Linked DNA regions of Homo sapiens: regions 2, 3, 4, 5 and 6 are each reported to be linked to region 1. Evidence: microRNA targets listed by miRTarBase, many of them from high-throughput screens and not tested one by one. Region 1 holds a microRNA gene; each other region holds the end of a gene's coding sequence.
What was found. The annotated mature microRNA hsa-miR-520a-5p reads CUCCAGAGGGAAGUACUUUCU and lies in region 1 at 3,336-3,356, shown strand. An mRNA with a match to its seed (bases 2 to 7 or 8) in the 3' UTR can be bound and repressed. Matches are read on the target gene's strand: a 7mer-m8 pairs with bases 2 to 8, a 7mer-A1 pairs with bases 2 to 7 and ends in A, and an 8mer does both.

Region 2: the mRNA of HMOX1 is a reported target of hsa-miR-520a-5p. Seed matches in the 3' UTR shown: 8mer at 3,742-3,749.
Region 3: miRTarBase lists C2CD2L as a target of hsa-miR-520a-5p. Seed matches in the 3' UTR shown: 7mer-m8 at 1,856-1,862 and 7mer-A1 at 1,921-1,927.
Region 4: miRTarBase lists TACC1 as a target of hsa-miR-520a-5p. Seed matches in the 3' UTR shown: 7mer-m8 at 3,651-3,657, 7mer-m8 at 1,746-1,752, 8mer at 1,074-1,081 and 8mer at 102-109.
Region 5: miRTarBase lists TM4SF18 as a target of hsa-miR-520a-5p. Seed matches in the 3' UTR shown: 7mer-A1 at 3,192-3,198 and 7mer-A1 at 1,261-1,267.
Region 6: miRTarBase lists SON as a target of hsa-miR-520a-5p. Seed matches in the 3' UTR shown: 8mer at 2,052-2,059.

Annotation. Positions count from the first base shown.
Region 1 is chr19:53,687,560-53,692,524 of GRCh38, forward strand. It overlaps MIR520A (microRNA 520a), which reads left to right and starts at 3,322; the gene lies at 3,322-3,406. It overlaps MIR1283-1 (microRNA 1283-1), which reads left to right and starts at 922; the gene lies at 922-1,008. The region is part of intron 2 of LOC107985342 (a long non-coding RNA gene); the gene reads left to right.
Region 2 is chr22:35,392,524-35,397,488 of GRCh38, reverse strand. HMOX1 (heme oxygenase 1) reads right to left here. Exons shown (of 5, transcript NM_002133.3): 5 at 3,282-4,021. The coding sequence ends at 3,891. Among named protein-coding and RNA genes, the nearest start is that of MCM5, 5.1 kb to the left of the region's middle.
Region 3 is chr11:119,115,447-119,120,411 of GRCh38, forward strand. C2CD2L (C2CD2 like) reads left to right here. Exons shown (of 14, transcript NM_001290474.2): 14 at 599-3,098. The coding sequence ends at 810. Among named protein-coding and RNA genes, the nearest start is that of HINFP, 3.7 kb to the right of the region's middle.
Region 4 is chr8:38,847,194-38,852,158 of GRCh38, reverse strand. It overlaps TACC1 (transforming acidic coiled-coil containing protein 1), which reads right to left. Exons shown (of 13, transcript NM_006283.3): 13 at 1-4,204. The coding sequence ends at 4,136. Among named protein-coding and RNA genes, the nearest start is that of PLEKHA2, 52 kb to the left of the region's middle.
Region 5 is chr3:149,317,956-149,322,920 of GRCh38, forward strand. It overlaps TM4SF18 (transmembrane 4 L six family member 18), which reads right to left. Exons shown (of 6, transcript NM_138786.4): 5 at 4,301-4,481; 6 at 543-3,537. The coding sequence ends at 3,523. All of the region lies in intron 1 of TM4SF18-AS1 (TM4SF18 antisense RNA 1), which reads left to right. Among named protein-coding and RNA genes, the nearest start is that of TM4SF18, 13 kb to the right of the region's middle.
Region 6 is chr21:33,575,419-33,580,383 of GRCh38, forward strand. SON (SON DNA and RNA binding protein) reads left to right here. Exons shown (of 12, transcript NM_138927.4): 10 at 178-249; 11 at 360-475; 12 at 947-2,063. The coding sequence ends at 1,006. It overlaps DONSON (DNA replication fork stabilization factor DONSON), which reads right to left. Exons shown (of 10, transcript NM_017613.4): 9 at 3,932-4,144; 10 at 2,133-3,026. The coding sequence ends at 2,889. Among named protein-coding and RNA genes, the nearest start is that of DONSON, 11 kb to the right of the region's middle.

The DNA of each region.
Region 1 (4,965 bases):
CAAAAAAAAAAATATATATATGGGTGTGTTTGTGTGTATATATATATTATATATGATGTATATTTCATCATATAGCCATATATATAATTATATACACAAAAAATACTCTTCTACACACAGAGATGACTGATATCACTTTGGGGTGGTTTTTGCTTGTGTGTTCTTTTAAATTTTTTTTTGCAACAAGATCTGGCTCAGTCGCCCAGGTTGGAGTGCAGTGTTTCAGTCTTGGCTCACTGCAACCTTCGCCTCCCACCCCAGCCTCCTGAATTAGTGTCTACAGGCATGTACCACCACACCTGGCCTACATTTGTATTTTTTTACAGACAGGGTTTCACCGTGTTGTACACGCTGGTCTTGAGCTCCTGAGCTCAAGTGAATCTCCTGCCTTGGCCTCCTGATGTGCTGGGATTAGAGGTATGAGCCACCACACCCAACTGGTACTTGTGTATTCCTGTTCAAATTTTATTGAGGAGCTTTTACCACCTAGCCTGTGGTCTATCCTGGAGGATGTTTGTGTGTGCGACAATGTATATAGTTCAACATCTTAGATCACATTTTGGATGTTTCCAATGGGACTGTGTGTCTCCGCACTGGAACTCAAATGAACACTTGGCTCAGAATCCATTTGCTGTTCTCTGGAAATCCAGTCCAATTCTCTTGGTTAAGTATAAGGTATGTCTAGTAGGCATTGCTTTTTCTGTTTGAGAACAAAACTCGGGAGGATTGTCCCTTGATGAACAAGGCTAACCTGCTGAGCCTTTGAAGCAAGGAACTGGAGATGGTCCTTTTCAGGCGTTTTATTCTGGATTCCAGAAAACATGCAAACAGGGCCACTAAATGCATCTTTATTTTTCTGTCCATTTAAACCTGGTCAAAGAAAATTCCAACACGAAACCCAGAGTGCTGGAGCAAGAAGATCTCAAGCTATGAGTCTACAAAGGAAAGCGCTTTCTGTTGTCAGAAAGAAGAGAAAGCGCTTCCCTTTTGAGGGTTACGGTTTGAGAAAAGCAGTGTTGAAGTTGATGCTGATCTTGGTAATACATTTGCAGAGCATGCTTATCATCAGACTTGGATGATAGCGGGGTTATGTTTTGGTTTTGTGTTTTTCTAAGACAGGGTCTCCGTTGCCCAGGCTGGAGTGCGGTGGCACTTCCAACCTAGCTCTCTTGGGCTCAAGTGATCCTCTTTTTATTTATTTATGTATTCATTTTTGAGATGGAGCCTGGCTCTGTCACCCAGGCTGGAGTAGAGTGGGATGATCTCCACTCATTGCATCCTCTGCCTCCCAGGTTCCAGAAATTCTCCCACCTCCGTGTCACTAGTAGCTGGGATTACAAATGCTCACCACTATGACCTGCCAGTTTTTGTACTTTTGGCACAGACGGGGTTTCACCATGTTTGCGGGGCTGGTCTCAACTCCTGACCTCAAGTGATCTGCCTCCTTGGCCTCCCACAGTGCTGGGGATTATAGATATAAGCCACCGTGCCCGGCCCATTCCTGTCTTTTTAATTTAATCTGCTCGTCCCTGACATCGAAAATTTTTCTTGCTTAACAGCTTCCACTTATTTCTCGGAATAGACCTTTTTCTGCAGGAAGGGTGTAGTTGATTCAACCCTCACCCACTCATGCCAACCGTAGTGAGTGCTGTGACTGCAGCTGCACTGTTTATCCTGTTTTCTGCAGGTAATTTTTCCAGTGTACCATTCCAACCTGCAAAACCTCACATTTAAATGCAAATTTCTTGGTAAGCTGTGAAATGTTGGCTGTGGCTAATATGAGAAACAAGCTATTATAGACAAGATGAATCTCAGTTGCAGTGATAAATGTCACATGGGACAAAACCACAGATACTTTCACAAAAACCTTGAGGACCCTAGAAGGGCCTCCCTAGTAACAGGTGGGATGCGCATCCGCTCTTGTTGCCATAGTGAGTGATGCCTGTTCGTCCAGCCCTCAACACCTTTCACTCCGTGGAAGTTATGCCTGCACTGGTTTACAGAACCTCCCTTGACTTGACTTGAGGTAGAGTTGAAGGGAACCTCAGTGTCCCTTGCAGATGGGATGTGCATTGCTTCGCAAGAGCACAGAGGTGGAGTGCATGGGCTTTGAGTTTTTATTGGGTAAATGAAGCTGAAATACAGGGTGTATGACCACGTTATCAACGCACACTTGATTTAGGTTTTGTATTTTAGAGACGGGGGTGTGAGCTGCCAAAGCAAGGACTTATGTGTAGGAATTATTCTTTCTGTGAGCATACAGTATATGGAACTTTCTTTCTTTTGAGACAGGGTCTCAAAAATATATGATGTATGGCCAGGTGCGGTGGATCACGCCTGTAATCCCAGCAGTTTGGGAGGCCGAGGCGGGTGGATAACCTGAGATCAGGAGGGCGAGACCAGACTGGCCAACATGGTGAAACCATGTCTCTGCTAAAAATACAAAAAATTAGCCAGGGCTGGTGGCGCACGCCTGTAGTCTCAGCTACTCCGGAGGGTGAGGCAGGAGACTATCACTTTGAGTGTGTGTCTTTGTGTGTGTGTGTGTGTGTGTGTGTGTGTGTGTATGTGTTTCTAGTTTTTACAAGACACAGCCTGACTATATCACCGAGGCTGGAGTGCAGTGGTGCAATGTTGGCTCACTGCAACCTCCACCTGCCACCGCAGCCTCCTGAATTAGTGTCTACAGGTATGCACCACCACACCTGGCTCACTTTTGTATTTTTTGTACAGATGAAGCTTCACCATGTTGCCCAGGCTTGTCTGGAACTCTTGAGCTCAAGTGATCCTCTCACTTCGGCGTCCTGAAGTGCTGGGGTTAGAGATGTGAGCCACCGCACCCAACAGGTACTTGTGTATTTTTTTATTGAGGAGCTTTTACAGCGTAGCCTGTGGTCTCTCCTGGAGGATGTTTGTGTGTGCGACAATGTACATTCTTCAACATCTTAGATTCCATTTTGGATGCCCCCATGGGTACTACATGTGCCTATACTGGAACTCAAGTGAACACTTGGCTCAAAATCCATTGCTGTTCTCTAGAAATTCAGTTCGATTCTCTTGGTTAAAGATAAGGTATGAGTAGTAGGCATTGCTTTTTCTCTTTGGGGGCAAAACTCAGGAGGATTGCCCCTTGATGAACAAGGCTAACCTGCTGAGCCTTTGAAAGAAGGAACTGGAGATGGTCCTTTTAGGGGGTTTATATTCTGGATTCCAGAAAACATGCAAACAGGGCCAGGAAAAATGCATCTTTATTTTTGTGTCCATTTAAACCTGGTCAAGGAAAATTCCAACAATAAACCCAGAGTGCTGGAGCAAGAAGATCTCAGGCTGTGACCCTCCAGAGGGAAGTACTTTCTGTTGTCTGAGAGAAAAGAAAGTGCTTCCCTTTGGACTGTTTCGGTTTGAGTAAAGCAGCGTTGAAGTTGATGCTGATCTTGGTAATACATTTGCAGAGCACGCTCATCATCAGACTCGGATGATGTTGGGGTTCTGATTTTGTTTTTCTCCAAGACAGGGTCTCTGTTGCCCAGGCTGGAGTGCAGTGGCAGTTCCAACCTAGCTCTCCTGGGCCCAAGAGACCCTCTATTTATTTATTTATTTATTTATTTATTTATTTATTTATTTATTCATTCATTCATTTAGAGATGGAATCTGGCTCTGTGACCCAGGCTGGAGTGCAGTAGGACAATCTCCACTCACTGCAACCTCCATCTCCCAGGTTCCAGCAGTTCTGCCACCTCAGCCTCCCATGTAGCTGGGATTACAGGCGCCCACCACCATGTCATGCTAATTTTTGTATTTTTAGCAGAGATGGGGTTACACCATGTTTGCTGGGCTGTTCTCAACTCCTGACTTCAAGTGATTTGCCTCCCTGGCTTCCCAAAGTGCTGGTATTACAGGCGTGAGCCACTGTGTCCGGCCTCAAGTGGTCTTCCTGAGTCAGCCTCCCAAGTAGTTGGGATTACATGGGGCGTGACACAACACTTGGTTCAGCTTTTAATTTTTGGTAGAGATGGGGTCTCTGTTGCTCAGGACGGTCTCAACTCCTGAGCTCAAGCGATCCTACAGGTGTGAGCCACCTTGTCCTGATGACCCATTTCAAAGATAGTTGACTTGGCCAGGCATCATGGGGCACACAGTCCCAGTTACTGCAGGGGCCGGGGCGGGAGGGTGCTTTGATTTTAAGGCTATACCGTGCACAGATCCCACCTTTGAATAGCCACTGCACTCCAGCCTGGGCCAACATAGCAAGATCCCATTTCTTTAAAAACAGATTACATAGCACCTGGTCCCACAGATTTCATTTGGGTTGGTCATGTCATACAATGGCCTCCCATCAATTTAGTATAATCAATCCAAACCATGGTTCCTTCATTAAGAGAGTGGGTAATCCTCCAAGTCCATCCAGTCTATTCTGTAATCCCCAGTGGGTGTCCGTATTGATACAATTTCTTTTTGTTCCTGTTCACTCGTGTCTTTTTAGTGTAATCTGCTTGTCCGTAACACTGAAATTTGTTTTTCCCCAACATCTTGCCATCATTTCTCGGAATAGACCTGCTTTCTCTGCAGGAAGGGTGTAGTTGATTCAACCCTCACCCACTAATGCCAACCCCAGTGAGTTCTTTGACTGTAGCTGCCATGTTTATCCTATTTTCTTTGGGTAACGATTCCAAGGTACCATTCCAATGGGCTTAAACCTTGCATCTAAATGCCAGTTACTTGCTAAGATGTCAAATGTGTCTTATATTAGCTGTGGCTAATATAAGAAACTGTTGTAGACAAGATGAATCTCAGTCACAGTGATAAATGTAGCATGCAACAAAACCAGTTGTTTTCACAAAAATCTTGAGGACCCTAGAAGGGGCTCCCTCGTAACAGGTGGAATGCACAGCAGCTCTTCTTGTTGCCATAGTGAGCGATGCATGTTCTTCCAGTCCTCAACACCTTTTATTTATTTATTTATTT
Region 2 (4,965 bases), not on the chromosome of region 1:
AATTTATTTATTCATTTGTAGAGATGGGGTTTTACCATATTGCCCAGGCTGGTCAACCTCCCTTTAAAATACCTCTATACAAATTAAAGCTGAGTTCAGTTCATACTGAACTCTCTTCCCTGTTGCAATAATCATTACTGATTAAAATCTGTCCTTACCACTTTTTTTTTTTGAGACGGATTCTCGCTTTATCACCCAGGCTGGAGTGCAGTGGCATAATTTCAGCTCACTGCAACCTCCGTTTCCCAAGTTCAAGCAGTTCTCCTGCCTCAGCCTCCTGGTAGCTGGGATTACAGGCACGCGCCACCATGCCCGGTTAATTTTTGTATTTTTAGTAGAGACAGAGTTTCACCATGTTGGTCAGGCCAGTCTCAAACTCCTGACCTCATGATCTGCCCTCCTCGGCCTCCCAAAGTGCTGGGATTACAGGCATGAGCCACCGTGCCCGGTCGTCCTTACCACTTTAACTAGTGTCTGGCTTTGTTCGACAATTGATAGGAAAAAATTATTCAGCCATTCTCCTATTAGTAAAATTCAAGATAGTTTCTCTCTCTCCCCTCCCCTCTTCCTTCCTTTCTTTGTCAGTACAATGAATATCTATTCCCCTTTCACAAATGAGGAAACTGGGCCCAGGGCAGGAGAGTCCCAGCTGCTATTGGGTTTTTGTTTTGTTTTTTTGAGACAGAGTCTTGCTCTGTTGCTAAGGCTGGAGTGCATTGGTGCGATCTCGGCTCACTGCAACCTCAGCCTCCCGGATTCAAGTGATTCTCCTGCCTCAGCCCCCGGAGTAGCTGGGATTACAGGCATGCGCCACCACTTCCAGCTAATTTTGTGGTTTTAGTAGAGGCAGGTTTTCACTGTGTTGGCCGGGCTGGTCTCAAACTCCTGGCCTCAAGAAATCCGCCTGTCTCAGCCTCCCAAAAGTGTTGGGATTATAGTCGTGAGCCACCGTGCCCAGCTCCAGCTGCTATTTGAATGCCTATGCTTTGCATACGTGACCATACGTGCTCCTGGACCTGGGTGCGCGTTGGACTCTCCTAAGGTACTTTTCAAAAATACTGATTCTAGGCTGGGTGCGGTGGCTCGCGCCTGTAATCCCAGCACTTTGGGAGTCCAAGGCGGGCGGATCACGAGGTCAGGAGATCGAGACCATCCTGGCTAACACGGTGAAACCTGTGACCTCCGTCTCCACTAAAAATACAAAAAATTAGCCGGGCATGGTGGTGGGTGCCTATAGTCCCAGCTACTCAGGAGGCTGAGGCAGGAGAATAGCGTGAACCCGGGAGGCGGAGCTTCCAGTGAGTCAAGATCGCGCCACTGCACTCCAGCCTGGGTGACAGAGCAAGACTCCGTCTCAAAAAAAAAAAAAAAAAAAAAAAAATTCTAGAGCCCCATCCCAGGTGGAGCCCTGGATTCTGTGGTTAAGTATCTCCAAGTAATTCTGATGCCACCATGCACAGACTGGTGTTTGGACACCACTGGATCCTCCCACCAGCTGTGAGAGGTATGTGTATTGTTCTCATTTTACCAGTGAACAAAATGAGCCTTGAAGTGGCATAGTCAGACTAGTGACAAAGGTCTCCTGACTTCCAGTCCTTAGGTACTGGTCCTATAAAGAAACACCTTGGCTGGGCACAGTGGCTCACACCTGTAATCCCAGCACTTTGGGAGGCCGAGGCAGGTGGATCACGAGGTCAGGAGTTCAAGACCAGCCTGGCCAACATGGTAAAACCCTGTCTCTACTAAAACTAAAAAAATTAGCCGAGTGCGGTGTCATGTGCTTATAATCCCAGCTACTTGGGAGGCTGAGGCAGGAGAATTGCTTGAACCTGGGCAGCAGAGGATGCAGCGAGCTGAAATCGCACCACTGCACTCCAGCCTGGGCAACAGAATGAGACTCCATCTCAAAAAAAAAAAAAAAAAAAAAAATACACCTTGGCCAGGCACAGTGACTCACGCCTGTAATCCCAGCACTTTGTGAAGCCAAGGTGGGAGGATCACTTTAGTTCAAGAGTTTGAGACCAGCCTGGGCAACATAGCGAAACCCCATCTCTAAAAAAAAAATACAAAAATTAACTGGGCATGGTGGTGTGCACTTGTAGCCGCAGCTACTCAGGAGGCTGAGGCCAGAGGATGGCTTAAGCCCAAGAGGTGGAGGTTGCAGTGAGCCAAGATCACACCACTGCACTCCAGTGTGGAGGACAAAGCCAGACCCTGTCTCAAAAAAAAAAAAAAAAAAAAAAAAAAAATCTTGTCCCATGCTCTGCCCAGGACACTTTCAGCAAAAGGTTTTTCACTTTCCCAGATTGGGAGGCTACATATTTAGTATTTTCTTGACTTAGGGCCATAGAAAGGGCTTGGGTTTTAGAGCTGGACAGACCTCAGTGAAATCCATCCTGACCCTCAGATAGTGGAAACACCCCCTCAACACAGGGATGACATAGATGAGGTGACTCGACAGTACAAGAATCACAAAACACTGGTCTCCTTCTTTGCATAATAGGTGCTAACTGTGTATGGCGTTGGCATTTCACTTGCATCTTGTTTGCTTCTCAGGACACATAGGTGAGTTAGGTATCACTATATTCATGTCACCAGTGATAAAATGGAGCCTCAGAGAGGTTAAGTGACTAACCTCAAAGTGGTGTAGCAGGAATTTGAACCTAAGAATTTCACTCCAGTCCCTAATAGTCACTGGACAGAAAATACAAATTTTGCCCCAGAATCTGCTCATTTCCACCAAACAGGGCAACCCCATCTTCCATAAAGTCGAGAATTGCATCAAGCAGGGTTCAACACAAATATTCGCCCACCAGCTACTTAAAGCTCACCTCCTGGGCCAGGCACGGTGGCTCACGCCTGTAATCCCAGCACCTTGGGAAGCTGAGGCAGGTGGACCAGCTGAGGTCGGGAGTTCGAGACCAGCCTGGCCAACATGGGGAAACCCCATCTCTACTAAAAATACAAAAATTAGCTGGGCATGGTGATGAACTTCTGTAATCCCAGCTACTCAGGAGGCTGAGGCAGGAGAATTGATTGAACCTGGGAGGTGGAGCTTGCAGTGAACCAAGATCACGCCACTGCACTCCAGCCTGGGTGACAGAGTGAGACTCCATCTCAAAAAAAAAAAAAAAGAAAAGAAAAGCTCACCTTCTGTATTCTCAAACAGACCAGCTCCTGCCAACCCCCTATCACCACTTCTCCTACCGAGCACGCAAGAAACCAGGGAGGAAAAGGTCAGTTCCCCAAGAATAACAAAGCCCATGAAAACTACTTCAAGCTACTATCAGACAATGTTGTTTATTATTTCACACAAAAGTTAGACCAAGGCCACAGTGCCGTTAAACACCTCCCTCCCCACCCACGCATGGCTCAAAAACCACCCCAACCCTGCTATAAAAACAACAGAACACAACAAAAATACTGCATTTGAGGCTGAGCCAGGAACAGAGTGGCTCCAACAAAAATAAGACAAAAACACAAGACACAACATCTTTTCAGGTTTGTGTAAAAATTGCCATGGCCCACGGGGAAAGTGGTCATGGCCGTGTCAACAAGGATACTTGAAACTCAGGGCTTTTGGAGGTTTGAGACAGCTGCCACATTAGGGTGTCTTCCAGGCTCTGCTGCAGGAACTGAGGATGCTGAAGGGCAGGGCTGATCCCTTCGCCCCCTCTGAAGTTTAGGCCATTGCCTGGATGTGCTTTTCGTTGGGGAAGATGCCATAGGCTCCTTCCTCCTTTCCAGAGAGAGGGACACAGTGAGAGGGCTGGAGGCCCTGAAAGCCTTCAGTGCCCACGGTAAGGAAGCCAGCCAAGAGAATTCCCTCTCTAGAAAGAAGGCCTTCCACCGGACAAAGTTCATGGCCCTGGGAGCCAGCATGCCTGCATTCACATGGCATAAAGCCCTACAGCAACTGTCGCCACCAGAAAGCTGAGTGTAAGGACCCATCGGAGAAGCGGAGCCTGGGAGCGGGTGTTGAGTGGGGGCTTCCCTCTGGGAGTCTCCACGGGGGCAGAATCTGAAAGAGAAAATGGGGCAAGGTCATTAACAGGTGGGCGTGCATCAGGGTGTCTGATGTCATAGGAAAGCAAAGCAGAGCGGCCTCAGGGTCTGTGGTACAGTCACTGCCCAACGCCAGGATTCTGCAAGACCACAGACAGGTGTCCCTCTAGCCACTGCTTGAATACCTTCAAAGACGGGCAGCTCACTACTTCTTCAAGCTGTCTGTTCTTCCCTGTGCAGCCAGGCCACATTGTGAAAACATTCTTGGGCCCAGGCGTGGTTTTCAGACTTCTGCCTGCTCCCTGTCCTCTCCTTAAACTTTGCCAGCAATTAGGTCTGAGCTGTAAATCTTCCTCTCAAACTCACACGTTTGCTAAGCATGGTGATGATGGGGCAGGAGCTAGAAAGCAGGAGCTCTGAGGTCAAAATTCAAGTTCAGTCCCATCCCTGGTTATTAAAATGTGATAGGGCCGGGCGCAGTGGCTCACGCCTGTAATCCCAGCACTTTGGGAGGCCAAGGCAGGTGGATCACGAGGTCAGGAGTTCAAGACCAGCCTGGCCAATATGGTGAAACCCCGTCTCTACTAAAAATACAAAAAATTAGCCGGGTATGGTTGCGAGTGCCAGTAATCCCAGCTACTCGGGAGGCTGAGGCAGAGAATTGCTTGAACCCAGGAGGCAGAGGTTGCAGTGAGCCAAGATTGCGCCACTGTACTCCAGCCTGGGCAACAGAGTGAGACTCCATTTCAAAAAAAAAAAAAAAAAAGATTTAAAACATGATAGGCCAGAGCCAACCATGCAACCTGGGTAGATGTGCCACCTGCCTCCTCAGGCACAGAGTGGGTGCTCCCTAGGTCTTTAGAAGCAGGACAGAGTCCAGGGCAGGTCTCTGGAGCCAGACCAGCTGGGTTTCAATCCTAGCCCCGCCCTGGGCTATGAGAAGGGCTTCCCCAGAGAAAA
Region 3 (4,965 bases), not on the chromosome of region 1:
CAACCATGGATCTATCTATCTATTTTTTAAGCCTGCATCACTTCTTGAGATAATGAGGTTTCTACCTCCAAAGCCTGCTGGGTGAGCACCTTGCTCATTATACTGGTTCTGAATTTACCTCTTTGAAGTTTCTAGATGCACCACTTCCTGCTCACAGCCTGGAATTCGGTTAACAAGTCAGTGTCAACCTACCTTTCCCTTCATGATTTATAGACTTTTGGGAGTACCTTCTGGTAGCTTTTGTCTTCCCATAGGAAAGAGGCCCAATCCCAGTTTGTCCTCACAAAGCGGCCAGCTCCGTGATATCTCTTTTGCGGGCAGAGTTAAGATTGTACACAGATCCCCACAAGTACCACGATTTTTGCCTCAGGAAGGATAAAGCACATGTTTGTTTCTGCTTTCGTTTTCTTTTTTCTTTTTTTCACGAAGCCTTATGGAGAAGTATGTTTCTGCTTTCTTTCCTGAGGAAGCCTGGCTTCTGGGCCACGGGACTGATCCTGTCCACATCCTCTTTCCCTCCATTCTCCATCGTGTCTCTGCCCCCGTCTCACCCCACCCCGTGCCCCTCTCTGCCTCAGCTTCCCCTCTTCCCCTGCAGTGAGTTTCCTGCGCAGCGGCACTAAGCTCATCTTCCGCCGGAGGCCTAGGCAGAAGGAAGCTGGCCTGAGCCAATCACACGATGACCTCTCCAACGCAACGGCCACGCCCAGTGTCCGAAAGAAGGCCGGCAGCTTTTCTCGCCGCCTTATCAAGCGCTTTTCCTTCAAATCCAAACCCAAGGCCAATGGTAACCCCAGCCCCCAGCTCTGAGGACCCAGCTCTGAAAGGGCACGAGTTCTCTCAGCCCATTCCCCACCTCCCCTTCCATACCCCTTCCTGGATCTCCAGTGCCTGGGCCAGGAAAGCCCTCTGGGTTCCGGGAAGCCCCGTCCACCCTGGGCCATGGGGCCGGTTGGAAGGATACTTGGAACGGGAAGCACATGAGAGGTGGGCACCCGGTGCCGAGGACATGGACGAGGGACTGGTGGCTGGGAGGGAGAGGAGGGCCCTGTCCGGCATGTGTGGGTATTCCCCAGAAGCATTTGCCTCCTGCTGAGCCTGGTCCCTGAGCGGAGTCCCAGGGTGCTCAGCTCTTCAGCTGACCCTTCTTCCCTTATTTATTCTCTTTTCTATTTATATGTGTGGCTTAGGACCCTCCGTGAACAGATGATAGAGGGCATCTCTCCCAGGTGACCCTTCTTTTCTGTCCCAGGAGGGTGGGTAATTCCCTTTGGGATGGGGCTCCCACACCTCCCTCAGGTCCCCACTCAGACCAGCACCAGTGTCTGCCTCTGAGAATGTTGGCAGCTCACAGAGAGCAGGGCCGGCCCGGGATGGGGGGCAGGTACTCCCCACCTTCCTGCCTCCCCTCCTGCTCCTCATCCCTCCCTCCCCCTTTATTACCGTTTTTTGTACTTGATGCCTTCTCTGTGAGCAGTGGCTCTGTGGGAAGGAGGGAGCCGGGAGCCTGGTGGGAAGCCTTCCCCAGAGAGATGGCTTTAGGGGCTTTATTTAAAGACTGTGATGATGGAGCCACGCAAGGCTGCACCTCTGTGTGTTGGGAGACGATGATGATGTCCATTGCTGTGTGATGGCTTGGAATTTAATTTATTAAAGTCAAATTGGAGTTTATAAACTGGACAACTGGTTATCCTTTGAAAGGCAGTAGGCAGCCAGGCTGTGACATGGATGGTGTGGGAGGATGAGACAGGGGCCCGGATAATGAGGTTGGGTAGATGACACACATTGTGGATCTGCTAAGAAGTTCCTGCAGGGAAGAAGGGGTGTGCAGAGAAAGGATGGAAGAGACAGGAGGCTCTGGAGTATGAAATTGTAGCAAAAAACTCAATCAACTAGTACAGGTTAGTCTTCATTCCCCTTTCTGGAACAGGCTGCTCCTTCTAGGATGTAATGGAGATCAAAGCTTGGACCCTGTAACTAGACTGCCTGCCTGGGTTTGAGTCCCAGCTCTTCTAATTACTTGTGTGACCTTGGGCAAGTTATGTAACCTCTAAGTGCCTCAGTTTTCTCATCTGTAAAATGGGAACTTCAATCATCATGGCTATCATTTGGTTGTGGATGAGAAGTAAATGAAGTGCTGAGTGTTAACTGTTGCCTCAGAAGAAACTGGGAGGGGGAAGTCTTAGAAGTGTTTCAACATAATAAAAGCTCTCTCATTCTGAAATGTGGGCAAATTTCAGGGATTGATAGATCCTAGCAAACTGTGTCCCTGGTTCCCGTGCTTGAGATCTTATACAGGACTTGAACCAGGTAAGCTGCTACAGGATATTGGGCAGAATGCAGGACCAGGAAGCAAGAAAACTGAGTCTGCCACAGACAAACCAAGTGATCTTGAGCAGGCAACTTCTCCTTTGGGGACCTCAGTTTCCTCATATCTAAAATAAGGGTGACCTGGATAAACATTCAGGTCACTTCCAGCCTTGACATTCTATGACTACCTATATCTCAGGGTGTTTAGGGCACATGCCTTTGGGTAGATAGCATGTGGAAATTGTTACTATTCCCCATGCTCCTGTCCACACTACTCACCAAATATGAGATATCCGGGAAGAATGGAGGGTATAGATTTTTTTTTTCAATTAGATAATTTAGTTTTATATATTTGGGGGGACAAGTGCAGGTTTCTTACATGCATATATTGCATGCATAGAGGTGAAGTCTGGGCTTTTTTTAGTGTGCGCATCGCCCAAATAGTGAACATCATACCCAATAGGTAGTTTTTCAACCCTCACCCTCCTCCCACCTTCTCACCTTTCATAGTCTCCGATGTCTTTTATTCCACTCTATATGTCCATGTATACCCATTATTTAGCTCCCACTTATAAATGAGAATATGCCATATTTGACTTTGTTTCTGAGTTATTTCACCGAGGATAATGGCCTCCAGTTCCACCCATGTTGCTGGAAAACACATGATTTCATTCTTTTTTATGGCTGAGTAGTATTCCACTGTGTGTGTGTGTGTTGGGCGATGATAATGATGTCCATTGCTGTGTGACAGCTTGGAATTTAATTTATTAAAGTCAAGTTGGAGTTTATAAACTGCATTTTCTTTATCACTCACTACATTAACTACGTTTTCTTTATCCAATCCTCCATTGATGGACACATCGATTTGGTTGATTTTTATGTAGTGAAATGTTCAATTCTAAGTCATGAAAATTCAAAGAGATTTTTCAAGCTGTTTCCCCAGTCTAAGAAATGTAACTCTTAGTGGTTCACAGAGGAACAGTTTTTCTACCAGTATGACACGACAACCAAACACAGTGAACTTGTGATTGCACAAGAAACTTTTGTTGATGGGAGAACAGGTATTCAGAGTTCTACAGGACCTGGGGAATGAGTAGATGGTAACTGGAATCTGTATTGAGCTTCCAGTACTGAGCTGCCCAGAGTTCCATGGAATCACATATTTTAGTGAAGAAGAGCCTGATCACGTTTCAAAAATAGGGAATTTTTAAATGAATGAAAAAAATACGAAACATATTTTCATCAACTTAATCCATTTCACACTTTCAGAAGGGATCCACAGCTTTTAATGAGTATGAATTATGCTTTCAGTTTTTGTGGCAGCTTTTAAAGAACAAATCTCAGGATATGTCTGAATTACCCAGCCAAAATTGTGGCTTGTTTTCAAGAGAAGCAGATTGAGATAGAAGTAAACTATGCTAGACAGAATGACACTGCTTTAAATTTTGGAAACATATATATGGATCCCAGAGCAATCCTGAAATTTTTGCTCTGTAACCTATGTTTGAGTTTACACAGCTCTGTGAATGAACTTTTTCTTCATAAAATTGCTAAATAAAGCTAAAAGCTATTTTCAGTGGTGTAAATCTGAATTAAAATGAGGATGGCATTTCATGAAGTACTACTATATGCATTTTTGAATGAATAAAGTTGGTAAGATATATTTTGTTACTTTTGAATTACATTTTTTAAAACGCTTTTTTTTTTTTTTTGAGACAGAGTCTCTCTCTGTTGCCCGGGCTGGAGTGCAGTGGAGTGATCTTGGCTCACTGCAACCTCTGCCTCTCAGGTTCAAGCGATTTTCCTGCCTCAGCCTCCTGAGTAGCTGGCACTACAGGCACCCACCACCACACCTGGCTAATTTTTGTATTTTTTGTAGAGATGGGGTTTCGCCATGTTGGCCAGGCTGGTTTCGAATTCCTGACCTCATGATCCGCCCGCCTCGGCCTCCCAAAGTGCTGGGATTACAGGCATGAGCCACCGCGCCCTGCAAAACCCTATTTTAAAATAGGGACCAAGTTATAACTCACTGTTGTTAAAACCAAAATTTATGCACAAGTATGACTTTACTATCTTAATGGCATTTTAAATTTTATTTTATATATATTGAACATTTAATGTGTTTTCTGATTGTACAAATTATATAGGTTTATTTTTAGATTAGAAGATACAGAAAACTACAATGCAATAAAATATCAGTCTTAACCAACTTTATTAAGGTATATTATTTAACAAGTATGTCTTGAACCCTTACTGAGTTTCAGCCACTGGGCTAAGTGAGTGATGGGTTTTTTGTTTTATTTTGTTTTTTGTTTTGTTTTGAGACAGAGTCTTGCTCTGTTGCCCAGGCTGGTGTGCAGTGGTGCCATCTCAGCTCACTGCAACCTGTGCCTCCTGGGTTCAAGCGATTCTCCTGCCTCAGCCTCCCGAGTAGCTGAGATTATAGGCGCCCGCCACGATGCCCAGCTAGTTTTTGTATTTTTAGTAGAGACGGGGTTTCCCCATGTTGGCCAGGCTGGTCTTGAGCTCCTGACCTCATGTGATCCACTCGCCTCGGCCTCCCAAAGTGCTGGGATCACAGGCGTGAGCCACGACACCCGGCCCACTGATGGAGTTATAAAGGTGAAGAACTAGTCTAGTGAAGAATGCAGACTG
Region 4 (4,965 bases), not on the chromosome of region 1:
GGACAAAAAACTACAAAAAAGTGCAATCTTTAGTCTCCAGGATGCAAGCTCTGGCACTAGGGGATGGGTCTTCCCTGGAGAATGCTGCCGCTGATAGTCTCTTCCAGAGGAGATCCTTTGAGAGGAGAGTCTGTTACATCAGTTTCTTTACTGTTACTCTATGGAGACTCAAGGATTTAGTGGTAAGTTGCTTTTTAAAAATAACTGGAATCTGGAGGCCAGTCAAACCTTTTTGGACAGATATCTCCTCGAAATACTTCTTTATTAAAGTATTTGAAGGAGATGACTTCTTAGACCTTTGGCTTGACATTCTGGGATTCCCAGACTATATTGTTCTTTCATAAGCAAATAATCTGTTATCTTTTAGATTCTTCAGAATAAATACATCTTTACTTTAAAATCCCTCGCTTGAATCATGTAATCTTTCAAAACCTAGTTTCTATCTTCCTAACAACAGGATAAAGTCAGAAATGCAAGTCAGAAAGCAAGCTCACAATCACATGACCACAAAGAGACAACAGTCAGAGACAGTTCATGAGATGGCTACCAATTATAATGAAAAACCAAGAGGAAGTTAAAAGGGGGCTTCAGAACTTTCACTCCACTAAAAAAGAATGTGCTGAAATCACTTCCAACTCAGTATACACAGACTTAACCAATGCTTGCTCTTAAAAAAACCCTTTTGAGCTTGAGTAACCACTGAGCTGCCCTTTGTTACCTTTATGGAAAATGAGTGCTTCACTCCAGCTGCTTTTACCCAGCCCAGGAACATCTGGGGGCAGTTTACACTCCCTGTTTATAATTAGAGTGAATTCAGGGCTATCTAATAAATATCTAAGTATTTGTGTAAGAGTTGTACAAAGTATGGGTAGGTTGAAAGGGTAACTGGCTGGAAAGAAAATTCAACTTGAGCTATCCTCCAAAACGAAACATAAATCTTCCCTCAGATTCCATACCATTCTGGAAGGCTGCCAAATCCTAGGTTTTTCACCATCATGTGCTTCTGCACTTCCTAATTTGGGCTGAGTCTGAAGAAGCTAGAAACCACGTGAGAAAACTGGGCTTCCCGGTATTTCCAGAGCAGTTTTACAGAACAAAAGGTTTGGGTAGGTCACTGGCTGGAAGGAGACTCTCCAACCTTGACTGTGACTATCTGGGCAGCCACGGGGGGAATTGTTCAGTTGGCCTCACGTTGCATTCCCCACTTAAAATACTGCTGGATAAAGGCTATCTACACTTTGGCAAAGTCAAAAGCTAAAGAAATTGCTCTGGATCCAGAATCTCAACAGGATCACCTAATATTCCCAAACCAACATCTAGGCCAGCAGCTGCCTTCTACTTTCCTTTTTCACTCCTGGTTTTTTTTTTTTTTTTTTTTTTTTTGAGACAAGATCTTGCTGTCACCCAGGATGGAGTGCAGTGGCATGATCATGGCTCACTGCAGCCTTGACCTCCCAGGCTCCCACCTCAGCCTCCCAAGTAGCTGGGACCACAGGCACGTGCCACCATGCCCAGCTAATTTTTATTTTGGTAGAGACAAGGTTTCACCATGTTGCCTAGGTAGGTTTCAAACTCCTGGACTCAAGTGATCCTCCTGCCTCGGCCTTCCACAGTGTTGGGATTACAGGAATAAGCCACTGTGCCCGGCCCTTTTTCTCTTCTGTAACAGAGTTTATTACTGCCTAGCTAGCAGGTTATTTGGCCCTCACATGTGTTGAGGCAAACTCTATACTATATTCTTACTCTCCAGAGTTCCAAAATCCTTTATTTTTAAAGAAAAATAAACAAACATACTTCATTCTGCCCAGTATATTCTCTTGATCTGTACAAGCTACGATTTTAATTCTCTTTGGAGAGGAGGCATCTGTTAAGTTCGAATGGGGGATATTTCCTCATAACGGTCATGGCTGAGAGGCCAGGACAATTATCACTTAACGAAGGTCCTTTGGTGCTCCCTGTGCATCAGCTTCATTCACTGGGGTCAGGTTCTTAAGGGGTCTCTTCCACCAGTGTGCTAGGGAAGGGCTGCCATCACCTCTGTTTAACACATAGCTACTTTCTTAAACACAATAAGCTTAAAAAGATGACTATGGATTTACAATGGAGGGCACTATAAGCCTCTCATACTTAAAACAGATCAATATAAAACAAGTAAACATGAAAACACCAAAACACAGCAGCAAAAAGATTTAGCAATCAATGTTTCTTTCTGCAAAATGCAAAATTAACTTATTTAGCAGTAGAGGACTAAAAAGGAAATCAGTTATACCAAGGGGAGACACGTGCCCTTGGTACTATGACCACTAGGACAGCATTCATATTACACCACAGTGACTGCTTTCAAAGCTCAAATGATTGTCAAGCCACTTCTCAAATGACAGATAATTTCTGTTGTTCTTTTTTATACAAAATGTTAAGACAACAGGCTTGAATATACAGCCTAAGCACCAATTATGATAAATGCATATTGGTAAAATGTGACTTCTGGCTTTAAAAGACATTATTGACCTCCCTGGGGCTAAAGATTGCACCCATGTGAGTAATACACTGCTAAAGAATAATTCATTTTTTAAGATCTATAGAGGTTCTCCACTAGGCACAATTCATTGCTGAAGTTGGATCATGCAACAGTTTTACAAGAGAAGTAGGAAAACATACGTATACTGAATATAGTGCATATCACCATGAAGACTTTCAGCATGTAAGATTAAGACAGGACAGTGCTTTAAAACACTTGCATGGATTTGGGTTTGCCTATTCAAATGAAAGGGAATTCATTGAGATTTATATGGAAAAATTCCATGTTGGGGTTAATGGCCCACCACTCTGAACTGAGTCCAGTAAGAGCTTGAGGAATTTGGCTTTGTTAGTACAGACCTTCTCCTTGCACTCCTCTTCTCAGTATTCAACAAGCTGTCTTTGTTTAAAAATATGCAAAATGCACTGATTTTTGGAGTGGTTCATGTGACTTTTACTGCTCATTTTGTTAAAAATTCTGTCTTAAGTTAGAAGGTATTTTTTGCTTTCTTTTCAACATCTGAAGAACAATGCATCACACTTGGGAAAAAAACATTTCTTCACCTTATAATTGGTAATGTGCTACAATTACCTTTTAATTAAGATCTGAGCCTTTTACAAGTAGATTTTCTTCACATACTTAAAATAGATCGAAACTCTGTCTCAAAAAAAAAAAAAAAGATAATGAAGACTAAATGTTGATTCTGTATTAACAAATGGAGGCAGAGGAGAGTAAATGACTCTAGGGCAGACTTGCCAAACCCTAGCTTGGAGGGAGTCCCATATTGCCGTTCATGCAGAAAGCAGACACTATCATTAGTCTGAGGACTAACCCTAAAGGGGCCACACCCATTAAAGCTGAGGAGTGTCCAAATACCAGGGCAACAAAACGTCATGGCAAATAGTCTTCTCCAGATATGAAAACCCAAGACTGTGGTCTTCACATCTTTAATCCCCCAAATTCTTAAGTTGGTGTTCTGAGTCAGGACTCTATTTCAAAATAGGGTCTCACATCCAAGGAAATATGTCCTTCTGTAGAGCAGTTCTTACTTGACTATGCTTCAGGGAAAAGAGCAGCAGCATCTATAAACATACATGTATGTGTGTGAGAGTGTGTGTAATTTAAAAGGGGATCCAGAGCCCCTTCTTGATTATAAATTGGAAGTAACAATAGGCCAAACTGTCTCCTTAAATAAAACCACTGATACTAAAAAATTAAAAGATTAAACAGATCACAAAAAAATCAGACAGGTGGTGGAGAAGACCCCAAAGAGGAGTTACAAATTTAACACATTTGGGAAAGTAAAGATGACTTTAAAACAAACTAAAGATAAATCACAAACCCAAACTCAGCAGCCTAAGGGAACCTTCATAGGGGGAAACTAGGAGGCTCCAGCACTGTCAGGTCACACTCCTTTCTAGACTATGCAACCCTCTAGGGTTTCTTCCAGGGCTGTTGCATTGGCAGCAAAGCGGGACAGGCAGCAGTAGGCATGTGCTTTTTTTAAGTTTTTTTTTTTCTCTGCAAAGGGGCAATTATTCCTGGATAAGGCAAGATAATTGTGGTCACAAGAGAAGCAGCCAAATGCAGATCTGTTGAGCTAACAGGGGGAGTGTCTCAGTCAGTCTTTCCCAGCTTTGCAATCAGCTCATCACAGATTTTTGTCAGTTCTTCAATTTCTTGGTTCTGAAAGACAAATGACATAATTATGCAGGCCACTTTGTATTCTGAAATAAAGGCAAATAGAGTTAACTAGTCCCAAGTCTGGATCTACCCTACCCTAGACATCCTAATTCAGTGATTTTTAACTTTTCTACATCAGAGATGCTTTAAAGAAAAAAAGGCTACACACCTCAAAAAATGTACTCATAAAATCATGCTTAAATTGAGTAAAGGGTGAGGACAGTCACCAGCCCTCTGAAACTTGTCCATGAATCTCTTAGTTCCCCAATTTTCTTGTTATCAGAGGAATTATCTGGGGTACTTGTCAAAAACATAAGTATCTGGGTCTCACTCAATCCATTAGCATATCTAGGGATGCTGGAGTCTGAATCTCCCAGGGAGCACCGTTCTAGGGGCTAACAGACCCTGTGATAAAAACTCCTGCTCTTGATGAATGGATGGCACAGGTATGAGTACATAATTGGAAATGCAGTAAAGAAAATACACCGGAGACATATAAAAACGGAAAGCTAAAAATTGCTTAGTGAGAAACAGGGATTGTTGCTAGTCCTGGTTTTCATTTATCTATAGCAGTTTCTCAAAGCAGCCCTGCTGATGTTTTAGGATGGGTAAATGTGTTGTCAGAGGCTGTCCTGTGCATTGTAGGATGTTTAACAGCATCCCTGGCTTCCTGCACTAGATACCAGCAGCATCTCCCAGTGGTGACAACCAAACAAATATATCTCCAGACATTACCTAACACCTAACATCCCCTGGAGGGCAAA
Region 5 (4,965 bases), not on the chromosome of region 1:
AGGCTGGTCTCGAACTCCTGACCTTGTGATCTGCCCTCCTCGGCTTCCCAAAGTGCTAGGATTACAGGCATGAGCCACTGCGCCCAGCCATATACTTGGAAATTTTAAAGCACATTAAAAATCTCATGGATCAAAAAATAAATCATAAAGAAAACTAGAAAATATTTATAACCAAACAAGGAAAATGCAACATTTTAAAACTTGTGAGATTCAGCCAAAGTGGTAATTAAAGAATGTCTAGTCTTAAGTGCTTATTTTAAGAAAAAAAGAAAGTTAGAAAATCAATAAGCTAGGTATTCTATTTAAGAAGTTAGGAAAATAACAATGAGATAGAAGCAAGGAGAACAGTAGATAAATAATAAGTGCAGAAATGCATAAAACATAAATCATTCTCAATCAGGATTAGCTCATAATACTCTCAGAATTAAAAAGTGGAAAGATTATTTCTGGAAAGGGTAAGAGAAGGCCAGTCATATACATACCTATATATATTTTCTATTTTAACTCCTTAAATGAATTTTACAGAAAGAATTAGAGGACCATTGCTTTTTAAATGACATTTATTTTTTCTAATAATTCAAGTACATAACACATTTTCAAAGGGAAATTTGAAAATACTGAACAATGTAAAGAAAAGAGATAGAACTTATAGTCCTATCATTAGGAGATAATTATTAAGTATTAACTTGTGCGTACTTATGCTTTCTTTTTTCAGCCTATAGCATCTGGTCTCCCATCCAAGTAATAACCTGGATCAATCCTGCTTAAGTTTCCAATATTAGGCATTTTCAGGGTGTTGTGACCACAGATGATGTAACTATTAACTTTTAAATATTTTTCTGGTCTTTACATATCTCAAGGTTTATACATGTCTACATGTAATTATATGGTTACTTAATTAAAAATTTGGGCTCAAACTGCATACATATATTTGGTTTTTGAGTTTTTTTTCCTTTTTACTTTGAATTCACGAGGATATAAAACACATATTCAGCTTTTTTTGTATTCAGCTTTTTTTTACTTAAAATTGCATGATTAGCATATACTCTTCAAATATAGAATATTTGGTGGCTGTGTTAAAATTTAATTTTCCTGATAGAGGTATCATGCTGCATTTGGCTGTACCCCTGATGTGTCCAATGCTGTGGTGGAGTCATTCAGCAAACATCTATTAACAGTCCATTCAACGTACGGTGCCATGCTGAATCTAAACAAGAGATAGACAGTCTGAAAGTATATAACAAACTGATGAAGTGGACCTTCCAGAAGTCTGTTTACAAGAGGGCTGAGGAGACTTTGAGAGAATTTTTAACAAGATGGTCCTAGATATGACTAGCTTATGGACTTGATAGAGAAATCCTGGGCTGTCAGAGGGGAGAGGTCACTCTGAGTACAACATGGTGTCTGTAGCTTGGGTTTGCCTCTTGGTCCAAGTCCTTCAGACCTCATATTTAAGTTCTTTGGAAAGTAGAGTGTTATTGAATGAAGCTCTGTAAAACTCTGGAGCCTAAGCATCTTTGTCTTAGCATCCCTCCAACCCAACATCTAGAAAAGGGAGACTTCATTTGGATCGTTTTAGTTGCAATAAACAGAGCTGCACTGATTTAGTCGGGGGTTTACTGAAATGATCAGCACAGTGACAAAGAAGAAAGACTATCTAGGAATCCAAGAACAGAAACCAGGCCTAGGGTACACTGTTCATTGTGGGCAAAGGCAGTTTTAGGAGCTTTTGGAGTAGAAGTTCATGTATCTTCCTTTTAATATGATACCATTATTAACATGAACCAGATACTCTCTGAATGTTGGCTTCCTTCTTCATCCTTTAATCATTTTTTGATGGTAATGGTCCGGTTGCTTCATTCTTGGCTTCCTAGTTCAAATTCTTATGCTTGAATAACCACCAGTCTTGTTTGGACAGTGTTTTACTCCAGGCTAAGTCAGAGGCCATTAGCAAGACAATAGGCTGCCCATGACTCTGGGGCCTGCCCCAGTTCAGTCAGCTGGGCCCAGAGCATGAAGGTCATGCGGTGTATAACATGGCTTGCTTTCAAGATGCTTGTTTCAGCAAAGGCTGTGAACAAGGCTTAAAGGGGGCTGTTGGCACAGCAGGCATCAAGGAGAAAGATATTCTCTTCCGTATCCCCCCAGCCTACTCCCTGGCTTTGGCACAGAGCAGGTGTTGACAGACCATTGTTGACAGTGTCCATGGAGGAGACAAATGGGGAAATGGCAGAAGTGTTGAGGCCCAGTGCACCTGTGATGGAAGCAGTGCTCAGCAGGGTAACTACAGGAAGCAGAAAACCTGGTATGAGCATTCAACACTGAGTGCCTACTGGCTTCACTGTGTGCTGGGTCCTATGCATGGTGGGAAATATATAAGATGTGGCTACTGTCCCCGAGGAAGACATGGCATGTATAGGTGGAAAATTTGTAAGTGTTCTACTTTTTAATTACTTTAAAAATAAATATAGGTACTGGTAACTCCCCCTGACACAGGTATTGACTGGTCAGTGGTCATTTTCTCTTGCCCATTGAGCATGTTCCCTAGCTGCTCACTTATTTTAAGGCTACCTCTTCTAGTCCATCACACTCACCCTCAGGAGTCAGAAAGGAAGAGCAAGAGTTTAGATTGTATAAGTTTATATAAAACTCTTTTTGGCTCATCTATATCACTACTTTCCTCATTGAATGTTGATGGAAGTGTCATTTCATGATGTTTGCAAATAATGTTGAGGAATGTGGAAAGAGCATATGCCTTAAAGTTTGGAAAAATAAAAAAATTTTAATAGTGAAAATATGAGTTTAGAAAATATTTATAGTAAAACATATTCAATAAAGAAATCTTGGAAAATATAGAAAAGTGGGAAGAAGGGTCATCAATGCCCCAAACCAAGCATAATTGGCATTTTGTTATATTTCCTTTTAGATTTAGTTTTCATCCTAAACTTTGACTATTAGTGTTTCATTTGCTTTAAATAGTTATATAGTAAACATGAATTTGTAACCTGCTTTTTGATGTAGCATTATTCATAATTTTAAAAACATCATTTGTAATGACTGTAATTTTACAACCATGTAGTACTCTTTATTTTTTATTTAATTTTTTTTTTAATATCAGAAAACATTTACAGTATGTACCACTCTTTACTTAATCCTTCCTCTGAGTTTAGAATTTTGGGGTGTTTCCAATTTTCCAGAATATTAAATAATGTTGCAATATACATATTTGCATAAAGGTTTCTCTCATATTCTTATTTACTTCCCTAGTACAGATTCTTGGAAATGGATTTGTTTGATCAAAGGGCAGAAGTATTTCTGAAGTTTCTGATGCATATTACTTAAAAAACATACTAAATGGAAGGGTGGTATACTTGCATGTGCAGTGAGGACTGCAAATTTTTTACAAATAAACACCAAATGCAGAAAGCACCATCATTTCAATATTGCCCTCAAGTCTACACAGTTGATATAATATTTAGATAGATGGCCATGTCTTGATAATGGAAAACATTTTGTCCTTATTCAAATGATTCCAGGCTATAGGAAAAAAGGAAAAACAAAGTGATTAAAGTTATAAACTTGGCTTGATTAGTAATCCGTAATCCAGATAGCAACTTAAACTTATATTTCATATTCAAAATATGATAGAACAGAAAAAACATCTCTTAGAAATTGCTAGGAAAGGTATTACACATTCTGTTGTTAAACAAAATACAAGCCATCTAAATTCATAATTTTTCTTCACTCTGGACTTCTTGATAGCAGTTTCAACCATAACTAAATTAACATTAGTATTTTAGCAGACGAAGTAGAAGTAGTTTCAATGGGATAAATACATATTTCCCTTCTTCTTCAAAAGCACTCCTATGCACTCGAGATAAAGGTTCATTAGTTGAATGTAGCAGCATTCAGAAGAGAAGTTATTTCAATGAGATAAGGTTCTGAGCCTTTGCTTAACTTATGAACAGGGAAATTCTTGATAAATGGTAAAATTTCATCATGCTTTGAGTTATCTCTATGTAGAACACTAAAACTTTGCTCATTCAAAACACTTATGAAGCCTTACCATACAACAAGAAATGCAGATTTTACAATTACTGAGTTGATTCAACCCTTATAGATAAGCCAAGACACATTGGGATATCAGAAAAAATTGAGATATTAGAGCTTGAATAAAGATGAGGGCAATAGAAATGGGGGGAAAGTGATGGAATTCTAGAGTCTTTTCAAAAAGCCTCATTGAATCCTGGGAAGTGGGGGAAATATGGATGAGCTACAGGTGCCCATGAGAATCTGTTACCTGGAAGATCACTGAATAGCTTCCACACAGTATCTTGGATAGTTGCATGACTACTCTGATGAGGCAGATGATCACTTGAAGCCCACTGAGGGTTATGAGAATGGAAAATAAAATGATGTTCCACTCCACAACATGTGCAGGTTCCAGGCACTGAATCCATATGCTAGAATCTGTAAGGAAACTGAGAGAGACCCATGGCCAAATCTACATACTGGGTCCAAGGAAGAAAGCTACAAGCATTTGTATGTTTGAGAAATTACTGTATAACTAAAATATATAGTTATTAGATATGAATTAATACATTTTAAAAACCATTCAGATACACATATTGGACATATCTTATGCATAGCACTGAGCTAGATACTTAGTGTGTTATAAATGTTGTGCTTGCCTTATCACCCCCATGGCCTCTTTGTTTTTCTTTCTCCCTCTTCCATTTCTTTCCTACTTCCTTCTTTTTTACTCTTTCCCCACCTTTATTTATTTTCTACTTTCTAATGCTCCAGGAAATAGAGGCACTCTGAGAATTTCTTTATATTGTTAATGGCTCTTGTCTCCAATGGGAAAGAGCACAGAATATGAAATCAGAATTCCTGGATTTGGGTCTGCAGGATGTTGAGCAAAGAACTTTACCCCTCTGGCCTCCAGACTTTTTTTTTTTTTTT
Region 6 (4,965 bases), not on the chromosome of region 1:
TATATGCTGAAAAACAGTAAAAGAGAAGAAAGAGAAGATTGATAGAGAAATCGAGTGTACTAGGAATCTGCTGATTTTATTTGAAGGCATACATTTTGAGGTTCAGACTCCTACAGAGGGATCTTTGTTTTAAAGTGGTGCTTTGAAATTTATTTAGTGAACAATTTTTTTTTAAAGGTCTTGTTGCAGTAGGAGAAAGAGCACAAAAGAGGTCTGGGAACTTCTCTGCTGCAATGAAAGATCTGTCAGGTGAGAGCACGTTTTTGAATTTCCTCTTACCCTAATCCCACCTTGAATTCATTATTTGTTGCAGAAGTTGGTGGAAATAATTTAAAACTGGGTATTTCTCCCCCCTGCAGGCAAACATCCTGTGTCTGCTTTGATGGAGATCTGTAATAAAAGAAGGTGGCAACCACCTGAATTTCTATTGGTCCATGATAGTGGCCCTGATCATCGCAAACATTTTCTCTTTAGGGTAAATATGAATTTCTGCATTAATTATATATATTTATTAATGTGATGACTTAGAGGGTGAGGGGTAAACATGATCACAGGATTAAGATTCTGTTCATGGGTGGGGGGTTTGTATTTGTAGTTAAGTGGTGGGGTTTTTAAACACTGAAGGGTGCTTTAATACGACTTGTCAATGTCCTATTTTTTAAAAAATTGGAAAAGGGTAAAATATAGTATACAATTGTTATTTTCTAGTTGAATGTGGGGAATTAATTTAATACTTTTGTCAGTCTTTTTCTCAATTTGGAGACCTGCTCTAATTTGCAGTCCCTTTCCCAAATGATTTGGTTCTTCGGGTTGAGATTATAATTTGACTTACATAGTATGGGTTTTATATTTTTGTAAATTATTTTTCTAGCATTTAGTGAAAAAATACAAAGCTAATAGATATTAAAGTTTGATGCTGTTCTTATTGTATGTTTTTCTTGAATAGGTATTGAGAAATGGAGCCCTTACCAGACCCAATTGTATGTTTTTCTTGAATAGGTATTGATAAATGGAAGCGCTTACCAGCCCAGCTTTGCCAGCCCTAATAAGAAGCATGCTAAAGCCACAGCAGCTACTGTGGTTCTTCAAGCAATGGGCCTTGTACCAAAGGACCTCATGGCTAATGCCACTTGCTTCAGGAGTGCCTCACGTAGATAGATTGAGGTTTTATAATAATCATTTCAGAATTTTACTCTGCATCACAATGTATTTCCTCTTTAATGTTGTAAATATTTGGCAATTTAAGACATTGTGTAAAAAGCAATCTGTAAAAACATCTCCAGGCTTTGATTTTTGTACCATGGAAATTGTATTTAACCATACAGGGTTTTGGTATGTTTATATTGTTTACCTTAGTGATGTATTTGTTTAAGTGGCTAACATCCAAACGACTGTTTGAAGGCATCAGAGTAATCTTCAGTGTGGAATGTTAAATAACGCTTTTATACTGTATTTTGTACTATGATGTAACTCCCCTTCCTTATGGCTAGGCTACTGTAACACTTGCCTGTAATCAGTGAAGGGCTGTGCACCTTGTACTATTTCACAATGGGTTCTGCTGGACAGATAATGGGCCAGTGTTATTGAGGTGATCAAGATCTGTTCCACAGGGCTAATGCCACCATCTCCCCTCAAAATTTTGTAGAGGTTCTAAAAAGAAAGTGGTATGTTGTGTGATGATCAGCACTAAGTCCTGCATTCCTGTTAAAGCCACTTGGGTCATAAGAAGGGAGTAAAAAATGAAGTCTGACTAGAATTCTATTGCAGAGGCCAGTACATTTAGTATGGCATTGAGTTGTGATATAGTTTTACTTTGATGTGCATTTTGAATTTCAGCTACACCTAGATAGACGTAAAATGATAATTAAAATGCTGTAACCAACTTATCTAATAAAATTGGCAACCAGCCACTATTTTGTTGACTATGAGAAAGTTAAAAGTTTATGTTAATTTTTAGGGTCTGATAGAATATTTCATGTGTATTACAGTGGTATTCATATGCTATGTCTCTAAACTTTATTTTCAAAAGCTTAAGGCCCAAATACAAACTTCTCTGGAATAAACGTGGTGTTTTATTTTCTGGGTTATAAAGTGAACAAATACTTAGATACTATTATTTCTTTACCCAATGCTTTTGATTTTTAAGCACTTTTATTTTAAAAATGTGAATTATACAGTCCCCCCCTACACACACACACACACACACACACACACACACACACACACACACACACACACACACACACACACACACACACACACACACACACACACACACACACACCCCTATAAGCACATTAAATACTACTTTGCCGTGACAGCTCAGTGTACTTCACAATTCTTAACACTATTCTATGTGGAATACAAAATGCCTTTTTATCTGAATTAACATGCATTTAAAAAGTTTTAGTATATGTGAAAATAAAGGAATTATAAATCAGTAGGAAAGATATTAAGGTAGAAGCATCACCAATCAACTAGCTCAGTAGATGTTGTCTGTATTTATTTTCTACCTTTATGAAACAAGAACCTGCTAACAGGTAAATCGTAAAGTAACATATTTTTGCCCTGATGCCATTAGTCACAATGCCATGGGGTAACTGCTATGTGATTTCCCATTTGCAAGGAAGCATATTAATTCAGTTTCTGCTCAATATACAATTAGGTTGTAGGGATATAGATATCTCATTTGAGTTATCTGAGTTTTTCATCTTTATATCTAAAAATCTAATCTGAAAATAGTAAAACACATTTAAAACCTTAGATGCTACTGTAGTAAAAGTTATGTTTATAAACATTTCAGTATATTCCTTCAACTTCAAGAATCTTGAATTTCCTTGCTAGAAGGCTTTTTTCCTCAAAGATTCCTTTTAGGCTTACTTTGGTGTTCAGGATCTCCAATTATAAATGTAGTCTCTCAGCACCACATTCCGTAAAGATGATTTCCCAAGTAACGGTATTTGACTAAGTTGCTCCAGAGTGTTAGGGTGCAAACCACAGTTAGTAAGCTCCTTATGAACAACCTCCTGTGGAAATGTGTGTACAAGTCAGTAAAAAGCACATTAGTCTTTAAACACAGAAGAGTTAAATAATTACTATGGAGACTGACAAATAAATGGCTGATTAATGTGATTCATCCTATTAATAGAAGTTGATGCTAAGAATTTTTGTAGTGACAAAATCCCAAAATATTAATGGTTATAAGTCTAGCCAACTGAGATGCATGAGACAATTTTAAAGGTCTTAATTCTAACTCTAAAAACCTTAAGTATGTTCAAAATTAAAGGCAAATATGGTTAAATACCCACAGTGAATTGTTTCCTTAAACTATAAAGGAATCAGGTACTATTGAGTTTTGGATGCAAGAGGAAATGAAAAAGCTGCCCCTTTTTGGAATGGGAAGTTCTTCAGTCACTGTTAAAACTATTTGGACTGAGGCCGGGTGCCGTGGCTCAAGCCTGTAATCCCAACATTTTGGGAGGCCAAGGTGGGCAGATCACCTGAAGTCAGGAGTTCAAGACCAGCCTGGCCAACATGGTGAAACCCCCGTCTCTAATAAAGATACAAAAAATAGCCAGATGTGGTGGCACATGCCTGTAATCTCAGCTACTTGGGAGGCTGAGGCAGGAGAACTGTTTGAACCCAGGAGGCTAAGGCTGCAGTGAGCCGAGACTCGCGCCGCTGCACTCCAGCCCGGGCAACAGCAAGACTCCATCTCAAAAAAAAAAAAAAATTGTACTTGGACTGAATTCATGAAAGCTACCTCACATAAACAACTTACAGACATTATTCCTTCCTCTAGTAATTCATAATTAAGTAACAGTTTAATTACTTGAAACACAATAGTGACTCAGCATAAATGACTCAATTTCCCTCCAGCTAGTTTGAGGAAACTACAACTAAAACAGTCTGCTCATAGGTGTCTACTTACCATATCAAGTACTTTGTCCATTTGCAGGCAGATGTTAAATACAGCAGTTGGCTCGTGTGGATACAGTACTGCAGAGAAAGATCCACTCTGTGAAGATTTGAGCAGCATGGTCAGTGAATGCAGAGAATGAGGCATGATAGGACCTGTAATCTCCAAACTAAATTGGTCTCTGTATCCAGAAAGAGCTTGTGTCTTCACATTCACACTCCGTGCCTTCATGAAAATGTAAAGAAAAGGAAAATTAAGATCATCTCTCAACCTTTTGCCTAGCCAAAAATATGTTCAATATATTTCCATTTGGGGTTTCCTCTCTTTTAACAATTATGGAATAAAACTATTTCCCAAGACATCTAAACAATGTTATGTGAGTACAAATACTTAGTAAATTTTCAGCAACCTTTCCATATTAAGAGATTTTCAGGTGAAGTATATTCCAGAGAATACCATTTTTTCATATAGTATTTTATCTGATTTAGTAATACACTGTCAATGCAGACTATTGGAAAAACAAAAATTTAAAATCCATTCAATTTTATTGCTAAGATTTAGCATGTATTTTGTATTTACATATATAATTTATTATGATTATAATCCCAGCACTTTGGGAGGCCAAGGTGGGCAGATCACTTGAGGTCAGGAGTTCAAGACCAGCCTGGCCAACATGGTGAAACCTCGTCTCTATTAAAAATACAAAAAAATTAGCCAGGCATGGTGGTGTGAGCCTATAGTCCCAGCTACTTGGGAAGCTAAGGCAGAAGAATCACCTGAGCCCCAGAGGCAGAGGTTGAAGAATCGCTTGAGCCCGTTAGGCAGAGTTTGCAGTGAGCCAAAATTGAGCCACTGCTCTCCAGCCTGGGTGACAGAGCAAGACTCCGTCTCTAAATAGATAGATGAATGAATGAATGAATGAATGAATGAATGCAGGGCGGCCAGGTGCAGTGGCTCATGCCTGTAATCCCAGCACTTTGGGAGGCCGAGGGCAGATCATGAGGTCAGGAGTTCGAGACCACCCTGACCAACATGGTGAAAACCCG